Regions from separate parts of the Homo sapiens genome. Here region 1 is linked to region 2. A link means that fine-mapping ties the variant in region 2 to the expression of a gene that starts in the linked region. Tissue or cell type: whole blood. Region 2 holds a variant in brackets; the other region holds the start of a gene. All regions are shown on one strand. Distances are from middle to middle.

Region 1 (8,108 bases), 57 kb before region 2:
CTCCATCTCATTAAAAAAAAAAAAGTTTCCAACATATGAATTTTGGAGGGACAAATACATTCAAACCGTGGCAACAAAGTTTACTACAATTTTAATGAACTAAATTTCCTCAAACAATACATATACTTAAAAAATACTAACTGATTACCTTGAACATGTCTATTTTGTATTCCTTATTTTCCCAGGATTGAAAGATTCATAACCACAAAAGAAACAATTATGTCATCCCATTTACAGCCATTTCCTGGGGTACCTTCTCAATTAGCTAAAGTTGCTTAATGACCAGAAATATCACTGACATGTTAACTAATGGTATTACCAGCACCCCTTTTTTTTTGAGGTGGAGTTTCGCTCTTGTTGCCCAGGCTGCAGTGCAATGGCACAATCTCGGCTCACCGCAACCTCCGCCTCCCAGGTTCAAGCGATTCTCCTTCCTCAGCCTCCCCAGTAGCTGGGATTACAGGCGCGTGCCACCACACCCGGCTAATTTTGTTTTTTTGTTTTTTGTTTTTTTTTTTTAGTAGAGACGGGGTTTCACCATGTTAGCCAGGATGGTCTCGATCTCCTGACATCGTGATCCGCCCGCCTCCGCCTCCCAATAATTTTGTATTTTTAATAGAGACAGGGTTTCTCCATATTGGTCAGGCTGGTCCTGAGCTCCTGACCTCACGTGATCTGCCCACCTCGGCCTCCCAAAGTGCTGAGATTACAGGCGTGAGCCAATGTGCCCAGCTGGCAGCACCACTTTTTGCTTGTTTTGTTGCTACCCTCTAAAAGGCTGGTCTCATAGCCTATATCCCTAGATTCCACTTGAACACTGTGACATTCCCTAATTCTTCCCTCTACTGTGGCTGCAGCAGTTGATTTGATGTTGAATTTCTTTAGCTCCTAACATATATTTGTCTTTCCATCTAAGTGTAAAAAGCTTTGAGCTTGTCAAAATTCTACAGTCTTTCATATTCTTCCAATCTGTAGTAGCATATATATACTGCAAGTCAAGACAACATTAGAAATAAAGTCCAAAAAATGCAATTGTGTAAAATGCAGGGTCGTCTTAATTGCACAGTGAATGAAGTGTTGGTTGGGGGCTGGTGGTGAAGCAACACAGCTGAGTATGTGGTTGTGGCTGCCAGACCCAAATCTCAACCCAGGCTGGAGTCTGATGCTACCTGGAGGCAATGCCCAGTTGACAGGGGTGATTCTGGGCCTGTAGCTGGCGGGACTCCAAGGACAGTAGCAGGGATTTCAAAAATTTTCCAGTCAGTCACACCCACTTGCTGGGGTGGTTGAAGTATACTGAGAAGGACAACACTGGAGACGCCGGGGCCAGCATCACTGGATGTTGCTCCCTGATTCCCAATGCTAGTGCCTTTGCCTCCCTGTCCTGATGAGAATATTAGCCCTCCCCATGTGAGGACAGGGCACACTTAACAAATGCATCATACCAAAATTTATATTAATTTAGGTTTTACTATACTTAAATGATAATACTTAAATTGGATTTTGTGTATTATAAGGCTGTGTCCTCCTATGGTCACAACTTCAAAGGAGGTCATTTCAGTGATGTTACTTTCCTAAATCTCAGTTTTCTCATCTCTAAAATGGGGATAATTGGAGTATCATCCAAATAGGGTCTATCTTAGGATTAAAGGAGAAAACATATGTAAAGTTCTAAACACAGAGGCTCACTCATAGTAATTACCCAATAAATGTTAGTAATGATTTTTATTATTACCAATCTCTCTGAATTCCCTTCTGCCTTTGCCCTCGCCTCCCATGCAGACTGTTCCTGCTCTCATGTTCTGTACCCAGACTCCTTCAATAGCTTCCGCACCTGTCTTCTCATCCCCAGGCTCATCCCTTCCACCCATTCTCCCTCCACTCTGCAGCTCCAGGAAGCTTCCTACTCCTACTGGATTCTTGTTGCCTTTAGCTTGGTAACAGGATGCTTTATCTGGGCTCTGGTAACCTCTCCTGACCGTATGTCCTGCAATCCCCTCTAGACAGCCCATGTTCTAGTCACAGGACCAAGGCTAGAGTGAAACAAGACACGCTCCTAGTGCACAAAATTTAAAGATTTTCGAGATTCTGTCACTTTCAATATTGTGCAACATCAGATCATGACCAGCCTCTAAAGATGCTTTCCATGGACATAAGCCTGTTATCTTAATGGTTTCTCTCTCTCTCTCCCTTCTTCCTTTGAACCCAGACTTCCTGGGTTCAAGTCCTTACTAACTATAAAACTTATAGTAAGCTATTTAACCCCTCTCCACCTCAGTTTTCTCATTTATAGAATGGGGATGATAAAAGATATCTCATAAAACTATTGTAAGATCAAATGAGTGAATATGTTAAAGTGTCAGAAGATGGACTAGCACTCTGTAAGCTTTCATCGAATATTAGCTAAAACTACACATTCTGCCAGCCTCAAGTTTTCCTGCCAAGTCCCCTTAATGTTACAGCCTAAGTAAACAAATGACCTGAAGCCCGAAACACAAACCATAGCATGGCCAGCTATTACGCTACTGACAAGAAGAAGGAGGAGAAAAAGACAGTTTCCCAAGTCAGGATATAGGGAATCATGCCATTCTCCAGCCTACCTTTTCAACTCAGTCACCTCTACGCTGTCACATACGATGTCCACCCCCATTGCAGTCTCCCTGATGCCTTTGTCCATATTAAAAGTCCTTCATTGCATGTGACAGAAAGCTAGCACAAACTGCCTTGAGCAAAATAGAAAATGTATTGGGTCACTGTATTAGTTATCTGTTGCTGTGTAACAAATTGCCCCAAACTTCACAGCTAAAAACAATAAGCATTTTTGATGAAAAATAAAAAATTGAAAAAAAATTTAAAAACCAAACATTTATTATCTCACAGTTTCTCTTGATAAGGAATCTGGGCATGGCTTAGCTGGGTGCCTCTGGCTTAAGGTACTCACACAACTAACATCACGGTGTCAGCCAGGGCTGCAGTCATTTCAAGGACCTCCTGGGGAGGATCCACTTCCAGTCTCACTCATGTGATTCTTGGCTAGCCTCAGTCCTCATGGACAGTTGGCCAGAGGAATCAGCTCCTCGCCGATTGTTGGCTGGGGGCCTCCCTCTGTTCTTTGTTTTGGAACCCTCTCCCTAAAGTATCTCACAAAACAATACCTGGCTCCCCTCAGTGTAAGGTAGGGAGACAGAGATAGTGGGAAAGACAGAGAGGGAGAGAGGGCAAGAGAAAGAGAGAGCGCATATGCACACACATGCTAACCCAAGATGGAAGTCACAGCTTTTTTGTAACCTAATCTCAGAAGTGACCCATCCCACATCTCTGCCACATTCTATTCACTTGAAGCAAGTCACTAAATCCAGGCCACACTAAAGAAGAGGTGATTACACAGAGGCATGAATGCCAGGAGGTACAGATCTTTAGCAGTCACCTTTAGGAGCCAAATTTAGAACCCAAGTCCCTTGATGTCAAAGCAAGTGATGCTCCACATCAGTCACAAATGAGGCCCTGAATAGACTTGGGACCTCTACCTGCCTGCGCAGATGGGAGGAGTCTGTGGTGTTTTGTATAAACAACCCTCCCTCTGAGACACACACACATACACATACACATGCACACACACACTCATATACACATGCAGAAGCTGTGACACGTGCGGAAGCTGTGGTAAGTGCATCCTCCTTCAGTCTCAGTTCTGAAAATAGATCATCATGGTGGCACCAAAGAGTCACACAGATGACTGGGCTCCTGGGCCTTTCTCCAGTAAGCCACAGAGGAGTCAGCTGCAAATATTCTCTTCTGTTCTACAGACCTCTCTCCTCTTCCTGCTCATGGGTAAGTCCACTTTATGGCCACCACTTCTTGCTACTGCGGTTCTTCTGAGGCCAGTTGCATTCCCTGCCTGGGAGATTCTTTTTTTTGTTTTTTGTTTTTTTTAACGGAGTCTCACTCTGTTGCCAGGCTGGAGTGAAGTGGCGCAATCTCGGCTCACTGCAACCTCCACCTCCTGGGTTCAAGCGATTCTCCTACCTCAGCCTCTTGAGTAGCTGGGATTACAGGTGCATGCCAACACACCCAGCTAATCTTTGTATTTTTAGTAGGGGCAGGGTTTCACTATGTTGGCCACGGTGGTCTCGATCTCTTGACCTCGTGATCTGCCCAGCTCAGCCACCTGAAGTGCTGGGATTACAGGCGTGAGCCCAGTTCTTGTTGGTAAAATCGGGAAACTCATCTCCTTGCCAGAAATTACTTTGCATGTGTGCATATTCGTGCACTATGAAGGGGGTAACATTCTAGCCCCGGTCTCAAATAGCTCTGGGCTCAAACTACATTTCTCTTGCCCTCACATTTTCCTAAGAAATGCCAAGTATATAATGAGTTTGTTCCCTGTATGGTGTGGATAAAACCCACAGAGGGATCCAGGAAAATCCCCTGATGAGAAGCCACCTAGCAATTTCCTAGGGATGGAGAGAACTTCTGGAGCTTCTTTCTATGTATCCTGCCTTGGTTATCATATATGCTGGCTTTATTACTGAGGTTTCACTGGGGACCTGGACGCGGTTAGGTGACCATGGGCAAGGTGGCGTTTATCTGGATATCCTTTTCTCCTCAACCTTATTCCTCCCTATCAAGGCCCAACTCCTGGGAAACATCTCTCCGCTGCATGGCCCGGAACCCCACTGTCCAGCAGATAGAGCCAATCCAGTACCCCAGAGAGGATCTCAGCCACCTGGGACTGTGGCAGCTACTGTCCTTCTGTGCTCCCGCTTTCTCCAGGGCTTCAGGGATGATGGTGCAGGTAGCACTAGAGATCTGAGAGCAGTGGGGGTTGGCAGTTGGTGCCTGAAGGGAGCTTTAGAAACACTCCTAGATGCAGATATGGGTGAACGAGGAGCCTAGACCTCAGAGCTGAGGTCCAGTCTGACCTCTTTTCACTTTCAATTTTATCTTGGCTCATCAAAACACACAGAAAGCAGCAAGGCTGTTTATGTTTACCTCCAACCTTTGGGGTGTTCCTTGATTGTGTTGAGCAAACCTGAAATAAGCTACATTCAAGGTCATCCAAGCCGCAAATGATCAATGCAGTGAATTTCAAACAGTTCAGAGCAAAGAGGCATCTCCATTGGTCTGGCTCCACTGATTAGGATGACCTCAAATCTCACTCTTTTGGTCTGAAAGGATGATGCTTTTGTATCTCCAAAGAGTCATTTCAGGAACTTAAAAGGCAGTCGAGTGAAAAGACCCCTCTCACTTTAGTATCAGGAACATCTGAAATTAAATCATTGCTCCATCATTTATTAGTGATGAGGGCCTCTATTTCTTAAGTGTAAAATATAGTTAGTAGGATGCATCATGCAACACTCTTACAGATTGTAGATGATCTATACACACACACACACACACACACACACACGTATAGTGGCACATAGTTGGCAGAAGCTATGATTGTTATTATTATAATTACTGTTACGTGCATTCTTTGGAAACTATTAAGAGACAGGTGAGTCAAATTCAGTTTTGCAATCTTTGAATGCTCTTTTATTATTTGTCCTACGGTGCAATTCAAAATAAAATGACTGGTACTGGGGACCTGTCATTGTACTGGGAGCTGCATTGCACTGTCTTCTGCAACAAGATTTGCCCTGTGAGGCCCACATCCTGCCCCCTCCACTGAGAGTCTGTGAGGCTTTTGTTTATGGTTTTTGTCTGATGTAAGAAAATTTGAAGTCAAAACGAGTCATATGCACCCAGTCAAGACCCAGCAGCTCCTGGGCTTCCAGGATACAGATGGGCAGTACTCCTGGCCTCCCTACTCCAGGGGCATCATGGACATAGGATCTGGACTCTGTGACTGATCAACCCTGTAATCTCAGGGAAGTGGATTAAATTCTCTAAATTTCAGCTCCTCATCTGTAAAAAGGGGCTAATTATAGTATAGTTATGAGAATTAAATGAGATAATTTACATAAAGTACCTAATGCACACATAGCAATCGTAAGCAGTCTCTTCCAGATGGGAAGAGCTCTCTTTTAGAAAACCTCAAACCAACCTCACATCAACTCAGCCTGAATCTGCCTAAAGAATCCACCTGACCCAACCTTCTCATGTCCAGGATCCCTAGCCCTGCATGCTCCATAGCTGCCTCTCCACAAGGTGCAAGTGCTTGGCTGATGGAGGTCTAAGCAGAGAACCCCCATGACCTGCACCAAGCAGCCTCTCTCCTTCCAGTGTCTGCATATTCTGTATCCTCTGGGTTTTCAGAGCTTGCTTCAGCTTTCTTCCGCCCCTCCAGGCTATGCTTATGCTCCTTTTTTGTCTCTAACATTTTCTACTTATTTTCCCACCCAGAATTCCTGGTGGAGTCTGGGTCCCAAACCCATCTGTTTTGGTCTAGAATTTCAAAAGTGCTCTCCAGAGCCTCGGAAGCCCTGGAATCTGGGAATCCAAGCTAGGGTCACCCAGAAGACACCCACAGGGTCCCTACAAGAAAATTAACTGCCTTGGCCAAATACCAGCTTCCTAGATGCCTTGGTAACAATGTTTATCAGGAATATGATCTTGCCTAAGATGAGGAAATCAGGAACTGTATTAGTACCACCAGCTATTCCCACCCCCAAACCTGGCCAAACCAAAGTCAATCTGAGATGCCATGGACAATAAGGGTGAGGTAGAGGTAGGAGAAGCTCCTTTAGTTCCCGACACTGCTATGAGAGTTCTCAAACATTCAGAAAAGTTGGAGCATTTACCCTGAACATTCATAGGCCTACTACCTAGATTCTAACACAAACGTTTTACTTTGCTTGCTTTATCACTCGCCTGCCCATCTAACCATCCCTCTACCCACCCATATTTTTAAAAATATGCTCCTTTTTACTTCATTGGCTCTTCACAATTTGCAGCAACCTGCTTTCATTTCATTTTTACCATATCCCTTGAAGAAAATGGTGCAGGTATGAGCATTTCAATCTTTTAGATAAGATTCACTGAAAAATTCAGAAATGTACCCAAAGTCACAAGGCTAATTCCTCTACTGGAACAGAAACCCAGAAGATCTGTTTCACAGATTGTTGTGGCTGCTTTTAAGGGAGACAGTGTTTGGGGAATGGAGGAATTAATGACTGTGCTAGGCAATTGACCTAGAAGAAGGAGGACAAGAATCTCATTTCATTTCTCAGCATCTGACATTTATGCCCAATGTATATTCACAGAGTGAAAGAAAGAAGGCTAGCTCAAGGAGTCTAGCTGCTCCTCCAAGTCCCTCTTCTATCTCTGCAGGACTAAGAGCCTCTGGAAAGGACTCAGCCCCAACAGTGGTGTCAGGGATCCTAGGGGGTTCCGTGACTCTCCCCCTAAACATCTCAGTAGACACAGAGATTGAGAACGTCATCTGGATTGGTCCCAAAAATGCTCTTGCTTTCGCACGTCCCAAAGAAAATGTAACCATTATGGTCAAAAGCTACCTGGGCCGACTAGACATCACCAAGTGGAGTTACTCCCTGTGCATCAGCAATCTGACTCTGAATGATGCAGGATCCTACAAAGCCCAGATAAACCAAAGGAATTTTGAAGTCACCACTGAGGAGGAATTCACCCTGTTCGTCTATGGTGAGTTCCAGAGAGCTTCTGTGTTTTGATCTTTTCTTTTTTTTATTTGTGCAAATTTATGGGGTATGTGTGAAATTTTGTTATATGTATATAGTGCATACTGATCAAGTCAGAGTTTTCAGTGTGTCTGCTGCCTGAGTACAATATATTCCTGTTAAGTATAGTCACCCTACTCTGCTATCAAAAATTGAATTGATTTTCTCTATCTTACTGTATGTTTGTACCCTTTAACCCACTTCTCTTCATCATCCCCCCACCACCCACTCCCCACACTCACCCTTCTCAGTCTCTGCTATCTATCTTTCCACCATCCACTTCCACATGATCAAAATTTTTAGTACCAACATATAAGTGAGAACATGCGATATGTGTCTTTTTGTGCCTAGCTTATTTAACTTAAGATAATGACCTCCAGTTTCAGCCACATTGCTGCAAAAGACATGATTTCATTCTTTTTTATGGATTTTTAAATTGTTTAAATATATTTAGGGGGTACAAGTGTAGAT
Region 2 (8,093 bases):
GCTACTCGGGAGGCTGAGGCAGGAGAATCACTTGAACCCGGGAAGCGGAGGCTGCAGTGAGCCAAGATGGCACCATTGCACTCCAGCCTGGGCAACAAGAGCAAAACTCCATCTCAAAAAAAAAATGAATATGTGAAACTGTCATTATTCACAAACTATATACCTGTGTATATAGGAAACCAAGAGGACTATATGAAAAATTATTTGAGTGTAGAAGTCAGTTTTGCAAAATTGCTAGATATAAGGTCAATATACAAAAATCATTTTTATTTCTATATATTAGTACAAACAGATAAAAATGAAATTTTGAAAACAATACTATTTACAGCAGCACAAAAAAGATAAAATATATAGAAATAATTTCAAGAAGAAATATTTAAGACCTATACACCTATTGCAACAAAAGATTGCTGAGAAAAAATTAAAGAGCTAAATAAACAGGAGACTATACCATGGTTTTTATTGGAAGACTTAATATTGCTAAGATGTCAATTCTTCCTAAATTAATTTATAGATTCAATAGAATTCCAATAAAAATTATTGCAGGTTATTTTTATAGAAATTAACAAGTTGATTCTAAAACTTATATGAAAATGTAAAAGACATAGAATAGCCAAGGCAATCTTGATGAAGAACAAAGCTAGAAGGTTTTCACTACCTAATATCAAGATATATTGTAAAACTTCAGAAATTAAGATAGCATTCCAGTATTGCAAGGATTGAAAAGTAGTCGATGGAATATAATAGTCTAGAAATAGACCCTGTGTGTGGGAAAAACACTAACTGTTTTTCCTCTGGTTTCACACCACAACAATCAACACAGAAGACTTCTGTGACCAACGTGTGGGGAGTTTCCCACGTGCCAAGCAAGCAATCAGCTCTTCAGTGGACACCAACTGGATGTCCTCTAATTCAGTTCAATTCTGACACTATCTACCTGTAGATATCCACCAGATGCCAACTGCAAGCTCCAGATTGTTTTACCTGCGCTTCTGACCAACTAGCTATAAACTGGGTTTCCCGTTATTCCCTCCTTGGGTTCAATTAATTTGCTAGATGGCTCACAGAACTCAGGGAAACACATTCACTGGATTATTATAAAGGTTATTACAAAGGGTACCTATGAAGAGATGCATAGGACAAGGTGTAGGGGAAGGGATACAGAGTTTCCATGCCTTCCCAGGGCGTGCCACCCTCCAGGAACCTCCGCATGTTTAGCTCTCTGAACCTTGTTCTTTGGGTTTTTATGGAGGCCTCAATAAATGGGAATGATTGACCACTGGCCATCGGTGATCAACTTAACCTTCAATCCCTCTCCTTTTCCTGAAGGTTGGGGACGGGCTCAGAGTCCAATATTCCAACCCTGCCTTGGTCTTTCTGGTGACCGGCCCCTATCCCGAAGCTGCCTACAGGCTGCCAGCCATCGGTCACCTCATTAGCCTACAAAAAGACATCACTTCGGAATTTCTAAAAATTTTAGGAATTGTATGCCAGGAAAGGAGGTTGAAAACCAAATATATATTTCACAATATCACACAAACCAACACATACTTGATCTTTTCAATAAATGGTGCTTGGTCAAATTGATATCTATAAGGAAAAAAAACCTTGATATCTCCCTCATATCATATACAAAAATTAATTTAAAACAAATCATAAATTTAAATATGAAAGCTAAACCTATAAAGCTTCCAGGAAAAAGCACAAGAGAATATCTTCTACATCTTGAGATAGACAAATGTTTCCTTTTTTATTTTTACATTTTAATCTATTTTTATGTTTATTTTGAGACCAGATTATGAGACTGGCTAATTTTTGCATTTTTGGTAGAGATAGAGTTTCACCATGTTGCCAAGGCTTGTCTTGAACTCCTGGGCTCAAGTGATCCACCCGCCTTGGCCTCCCAAAGCGCTGAGATTACAGGCATGAGCCACTGCACCCAGACAACAAATGTTTCTTTAACAGGACACACACACACAAAAATAAATCACTAACCATAAAAGAATATTGATAAATTGGACTTCACTAAAACTTAGAACTTCTGTTTGGTGAAAGACAACATTGAGAGAGTGAAAAAGCAAGCCAAAGACTGGGAGAAAATGTTTGCAATACATACATTTGAAAAAGGGCTCATATCCAGAGTATATAAAGAATTCCATCAATAATAGACTGATGACAATAATAGACTGGAAATCAATAATACACTGATGACAATAATGACAAAAAAAGCAACAGACTTGGGCAGGCACTTTAGGAAAGAGAATATCCAATAGCCAATAGGCATGCATAAGGGTGCCCAACAACATTAGTTATCAGAGAATAATGAGATTTCACATTCCCACCAAAATAGCTAACATTTAAAGGTCTGAAGGCTGGGCGAAGCGGCTCAAGCCTGTAATCCCAGCACTTTGGGAGGCCGAGGCGGGTGGATCGCTTGAGGCCAGGAGTTCGAGGCCAGCCTGGCCAACATGGTGAAACCCCATCTCTACTAAAAATGCAAAAATTAGCAGAGCACGGTGGTGGCGCCTGTAATACCAGCTTCTTGGGAGTCTGAGGCAGGAGAATTGCTTGAACCCAGGAGGCAGAGGTTGCAGTGAGCCAAGATCACGCCACTGTACTCCAGCCTGGGTGACAGACTGAGACTTGGTCTCGAAAATAAATGTAAATAAATAAATGTGAAAATTCCAAGGGTTGACAGAGATGGGAGCAACTGAGATTCTCATTTATTGCTAGTGAGAGTGTAAATTGGTACCAGCACTTTGGAAAACTATTTTACGGTATCTTCTAAAACTAAACTTACATATACCCTTTGATCCAGAAGAATTTGTACACAAGAAAATCTGGGCCAGGCATGGTGGCTCATGCCTGTAATCCCAGCACTTTGGGAGGTCGAGGCAGGCGGATCACCTGAGGTCAGGAGTTTGAGACCAGCCTGGCCAACATGGTGAAACCCCATCTCAAAAAAAAGAAAAAAAATTAGCTGGGCGTGGCAGTGCACACCTGTAATCCCAGCTACTTGGAAGACTGAAGCAGGAGAATCACTTAAATCTGAGAGGCGGAGGTTGCAGTGAGCCAAGATCATGCCATTGCACTCCAGCCTGGGCAACAAGAGTGAAACTCCGTCTCAAAAAAAAAGAAAATCTGGTGTTTATATCCACTAAAAATATGTACAAGAGTGTTAATAATGGCTTTAGTCATAATAACTCAAAATGAGAAAAAACCCAAATGTCTATCACGATTAGATGAGCAAATAAATCGTGTTATAGTCTTATAAGGAATATTACACAGCAATGAAAAAGAAAAGCTACTTTTCCTGGCAATAATGTGGATGGATCTCACCACAATGATGAGTATTAATGAAGCTAGACTCCAAAAAGTACATAGTGAATTATTTCACTGATATAAAGTTTAAAATCTGGAAAAACTAATATATGGTGAGAGAGGTTAGAATGTGATTACCCTTGCAGGAGGGGGGTTATCAACTTGAAGGGCCAAAAAGGAATGACTGGGTGCTAGAAATGTGTTACATCTTGATGTGGGTAGTTTTGATATGTACTTACACATATAAAAGTTCATCAAGCTGTTGATTTAAATTTTGTGCACACAGCTGTGAGTTGTATCTTGGTAAAAAAGCAGAAAAAGAGTAATGACTACCTCTCACTCAACTGTTCTGACTATTAACTAAGATGTACTTTGATAAAAGCAAAATATGACTTGCCCATTGTGGAAACATTACCATAGCAAGTGAATTTGTAGATTTCCTCACTCATCTCAGCTAAACCCAACTCTTAGCTAAATATCAGAAAAGCCTGGGAGGCAGGGGTTGCAGTGAGCCATGACTGCACCACTGCACCCCAGCCTGGGTGACAGAGCAAGACCCTGCCTAAAAAAAAAAAAAAAAAAAAAAAAAAGTGAAAAAGGAAGATAGACCTAAAACAGCCAACTGAAATGCAATATGGAATGTGCTATGGAGGTGTGCCCAGGGTGTGAGGCAAGCATAAGGAAAGCATGTTTTCCTCTGCCCTGCAGAGTTAGGAGTGGCTGCCCAGAGGCGGTGGGTGGGAGCTGCCATTGAAAGAAAAAGCCAAGGCCTGCCTGGTGTATGCAGAAAGGAACAGGGAAGGTGGGTATTATGGACCCAGCAGTAGCATGGTTAAGGGAACACAAAACACACGTGTGGCTTATGGGTCTGGTAAAGATGGAGCAGGTTTGGAGAATGGGGTGATGGAACATGAGTTTAATTTTCAGGTGTTTAGTGGTGGTTTCACTTTATTTTTATCTTTTATAAAATTGTGAGAGGTAGCACAAGTATTAAAAGGTACTTAAATATAAATATACGGTGTAATGAAAAATAACGTAAACTCCCATATAATCCACCAGTAGATCAGAATGTAGAGCGCTATGTAGAAGAAGGTTGTTCTCTGCTATTATAAAACTGAATAGGAATCACACAGGAAAATGGTTAAGTTATTGTCTAGACTTCTTTGTTTGTTTGTTTGTTTTAAGACAGAGTCTCGCTCTGTCACCCAGACTGGTGTGCAGTGGCATGATCTCGGCTCACTGCAATCTCTGCCTCC[C/G]AGGTTCAAGTGATTCTCCTGTCTCAGCCTCATGAGTAACTGGGACTACAGGTGCCTGCCACCACCCCCAGCTATTCTTTTTTTTTTTTTTGTATTTTTAGTAGAGACAGGGTTTCGCCATATTGGCCAGGCTGGTCTTGAACTCCTGACCTCAAGTAATCCACCCGTCTCAGCCTCCCAAAGTTCTGGCGTGAGCCACCACTCCCAGCCATAGACTTCTAAATACTTAAAGAATGAAATGTGTGATCTACAGTCCTCATGCTATACTGCCTTTGGGGTCTTTTTAAAAATTAGGCCGTTATATTTTATTTTTATGTAATATTATATTAGTTTATACATTTAAGACTGGTTTGTCTGCAAATAAAAAGGAGCTAGAGAGAACACCAGGTGTTGTTTTGATTTTTCAACTGGAAGGAAACTGTACTAAAGGTAGGAAGCCCACAGAAAAGGAGCAGCTGAAGAAAGATGAGGGATGTCTTCACAGACAGCAGGTCCCAGGTGACTTCTGAAAGAAGCTCTGGTGCCCTGAGCACACAGGGGAGTATTGGTCAAGGACAGGGCAAGAACACTCTTGCCCTCAGCAGAGGCAAATGTGGCCATTTACAGGAGTAGATGAAGTACATTGACACTGGAGACTTGTTGGCAAGGTTGGTGGAATCCCTAACTTGTGCTTCTGTTTTCTTAAAGAAGGAGGTTGTTGGTTTGTGGAGGCTGAGATAGTGGAACAGGGCCTTGAAAGAGATGACGAAGGTGTGGAATTCTCCCACCTTTTGGGGAACAGGAGAAGCTGTGGGCCAGAAATGAGGATTCCCAGGACACTGAGAGTCCAGCTGGGGTTGGAGATTACGAATCTGTAGCTGCTCTTTGTTGCTGAATTTTCTCCTGCAGCCCCCAACAGTCCAGTGTGGGAAGGAGGAAGATGGTTGGAATGAGTTTCCATGGACGGCCTGGAAGGGGTGGGTGCCAGGGCAGGGGTGCAAAGCAGATACGGTGAAAAGGCAAGTAGACAAGTCACTATGTCCAGGGTATTGTGACTGATACAGAAAGACCTCAGTTTCTGTCCCAGAGGGGTACACACACCAGATAGGGGAGATGAAATGCTACTACGAAAACATAACTTCAACACAAGTTCTCACACATTTAGTGAGGCATAGAGGAGGACCCAACAAGTGAAAATTGTTTAGAGGAAAGAGGCCACAGTCCAGGAAGGCCCCCGGGCCCCTGCCACTGCTGTTGCTACTGCTCAGCAGCTTTGGGGGCCACCTTCCTGTGGTTAAGAACGGATGAGGTGAACTAGTAACTCTGAAAGGGAGGGCAGAGGGCAGATGATTAACTCCACTGCAGCCTCAGGAAGAACAGAGGATGGTCAAGGAGACAAGTACAGAGGATGGTGAAGGAGACAATCTGATCCAGCAGTGAGTCCCGCTCAGCCCTGAGCCCATGTGCAGAGCTCTGAGTCAGCTCAGCTTCCTCCAACCTGGACCTGCCAGTCGGAGGAAGGTGTGGGGCCTGAGCACCTGGGAGAAGGAGCACGGGAGGGTCTCAGAGCAAGTGGAATTTCCACCAGCCAACAAATAGATGTTAAGGTTTTCTCAGCTAGGGCTTGTGCTACCAGGCTTGGGGTGAAGGCATCAAAAGATGTACCTGCTGGGGACTAAGTGAACAGAGTCCAGTGAGATTCCAAAAGTACTGGGGCAATCCAGCTCTAGTCAGGGCAAAATCATAAGATAGATAAAGTATCCTATAGGGCCCACATCCCATTTCTTTCTTCCTCTCTATTTAGCTTCATACTGACCATATTAACTCTCTTCCTCAGGCAATGCAACTCCCTTACCTCTGTCAAAACTCACCTAGCCCAAGTCCCACTCTTTGCATCAGTTAACCAAATCATCTCATATGTGATATTGTTTCTCCATGATAACAAGTGCATCTCCCTTTCCTGTTTCCCATCCAAACCCCATGCAACCCTGGCTTTTCTGAGCTGTTTCCTCTGCTTCAATTGTCCTTCTACTTTGTACCTACCTCCTAAACTCTTATTTATTCTTCAAGGCCAGTTCCCCAGTGTTCCTACCTAGAAGGAATCTTCATCTTCTTAGCTCCTTTTTTATTCTAAATGTATCTTGCCTGTTAATGACACATAGCATTTCCATCTTCCCTTATAGTTGTAATTATACATACCCATTTTCCTCTGTCTGAAAGATTCTTAAGGGTAGAATAGACATCTGTTTCATCTTTGTTTCCCCCACAAAACCTTGCATAGTTCTTGGAGCATAATAAGGGCTGGGGAAAGAGTTTATGAATAAGACCTCAAAAGCACAGGCAACAGAAGCAAAATAAACAAATGGTATTACAGCAAACTAAAAAAAAATCATGTACAGTAAAGGAAACAATTCACAGAGTGAAAAGGCAACCAATAGAATAGGAAAAAAAATTGCAAACTATGAATCCTACAGGCAACTAATATGCAGAATAGACAAGAAATTCAAACGTCACAACAGCAAAATGAACAACCCAAGCAAGGGCTTCATGAATCCGTTTAAATTAATTAATTCAACAATGCATCTCACATAACTCCTAAAAATGACTCTATTGTCAGAATTTCATGCAGGATACCAGAGAAATCACAGAGCTGTAATTCCCTTGCCTTTGGCCTCTTGCCAAGCTCCACATTTCCACAATTTAATTTTCCATCTGCAGACCTTCAGAACCAAAAGCCAGTGGCCCCAAAGCAGCATGGAACTCTCATGCACTATTTGGTTCAACCACTTTGGAAAACAGTTTGACAGCATCTGCTAGAGTTACGTACACATACTCCATGGTTCTGCCCCTAGAGATATACCCAACAGACATGCATGCACAAAAGGCTCATCACAGCATTATTATAATAGCAAAAACAAAATTGAAAGCAACCCAAAGGTTCATCAATAATAGAAAAGGTGAATAAACTATGATATAGTCATGCGATAAAATACTATACAGCCATGAAAATGATCTGCTACAAATAATAACATACATAAATCTCATAAGATGTTGAGCAAAAGTAGTCAGACACAAGAGTGCATACCGTTTGATTCCATATATACGGACAAAACAAATCTGTGATGTTAGAAGTCAGAATTGTGGCTATATTTATGGAAGACAGAGGAAGTAATGAATGGGAGAGAACATGTGGTAGACACAAGAGTGTGTTCATTTAACAATAGCTCATTGAGATGTACATTTGTAATTTTGTGTACTTTTCTGTATGTTGCACTTCAATAAGAGAGGTTTGTCTGTGAAGACAATGGCCTGGCTGGGCACAGTGGCCCACATCTGTAATCCCAGTAATTTGGGAGGCCAAGGCAAGAGGATTGCTTGAGCCCAGGAGGTCAAGACCAGCCCAGGCAGCATAGCAAAACCCCATCTCTACACAAAAATTAAAAATAAGCCAAGTGTGGTGATACATGCCTGTAGTCCCAGCTACTAAGGAGGCTGAGGCAGAAGGATTGCTTGAGCCCAGGAGGTCAAGGCTACAGT

The links. PIP is the estimated chance that this variant, and not a neighbour inherited with it, causes the effect.
Region 1: LY9 starts here. The variant in region 2 is fine-mapped to the expression of LY9 in whole blood (TOPMed, PIP above 0.99).

The regions. Positions count from the first base shown.
Region 1 is chr1:160,792,481-160,800,588 of GRCh38, forward strand. It overlaps LY9 (lymphocyte antigen 9), which reads left to right and starts at 3,694. Exons shown (of 10, transcript NM_002348.4): 1 at 3,694-3,831; 2 at 7,273-7,602. The coding sequence starts at 3,708.
Region 2 is chr1:160,849,898-160,857,990 of GRCh38, forward strand. All of the region lies in intron 1 of CD244 (CD244 molecule), which reads right to left. Among named protein-coding and RNA genes, the nearest start is that of CD244, 8.9 kb to the right of the region's middle. RefSeq lists an enhancer at 5,491-5,540. The variant C/G (reference allele first, on the strand shown) is at 4,578.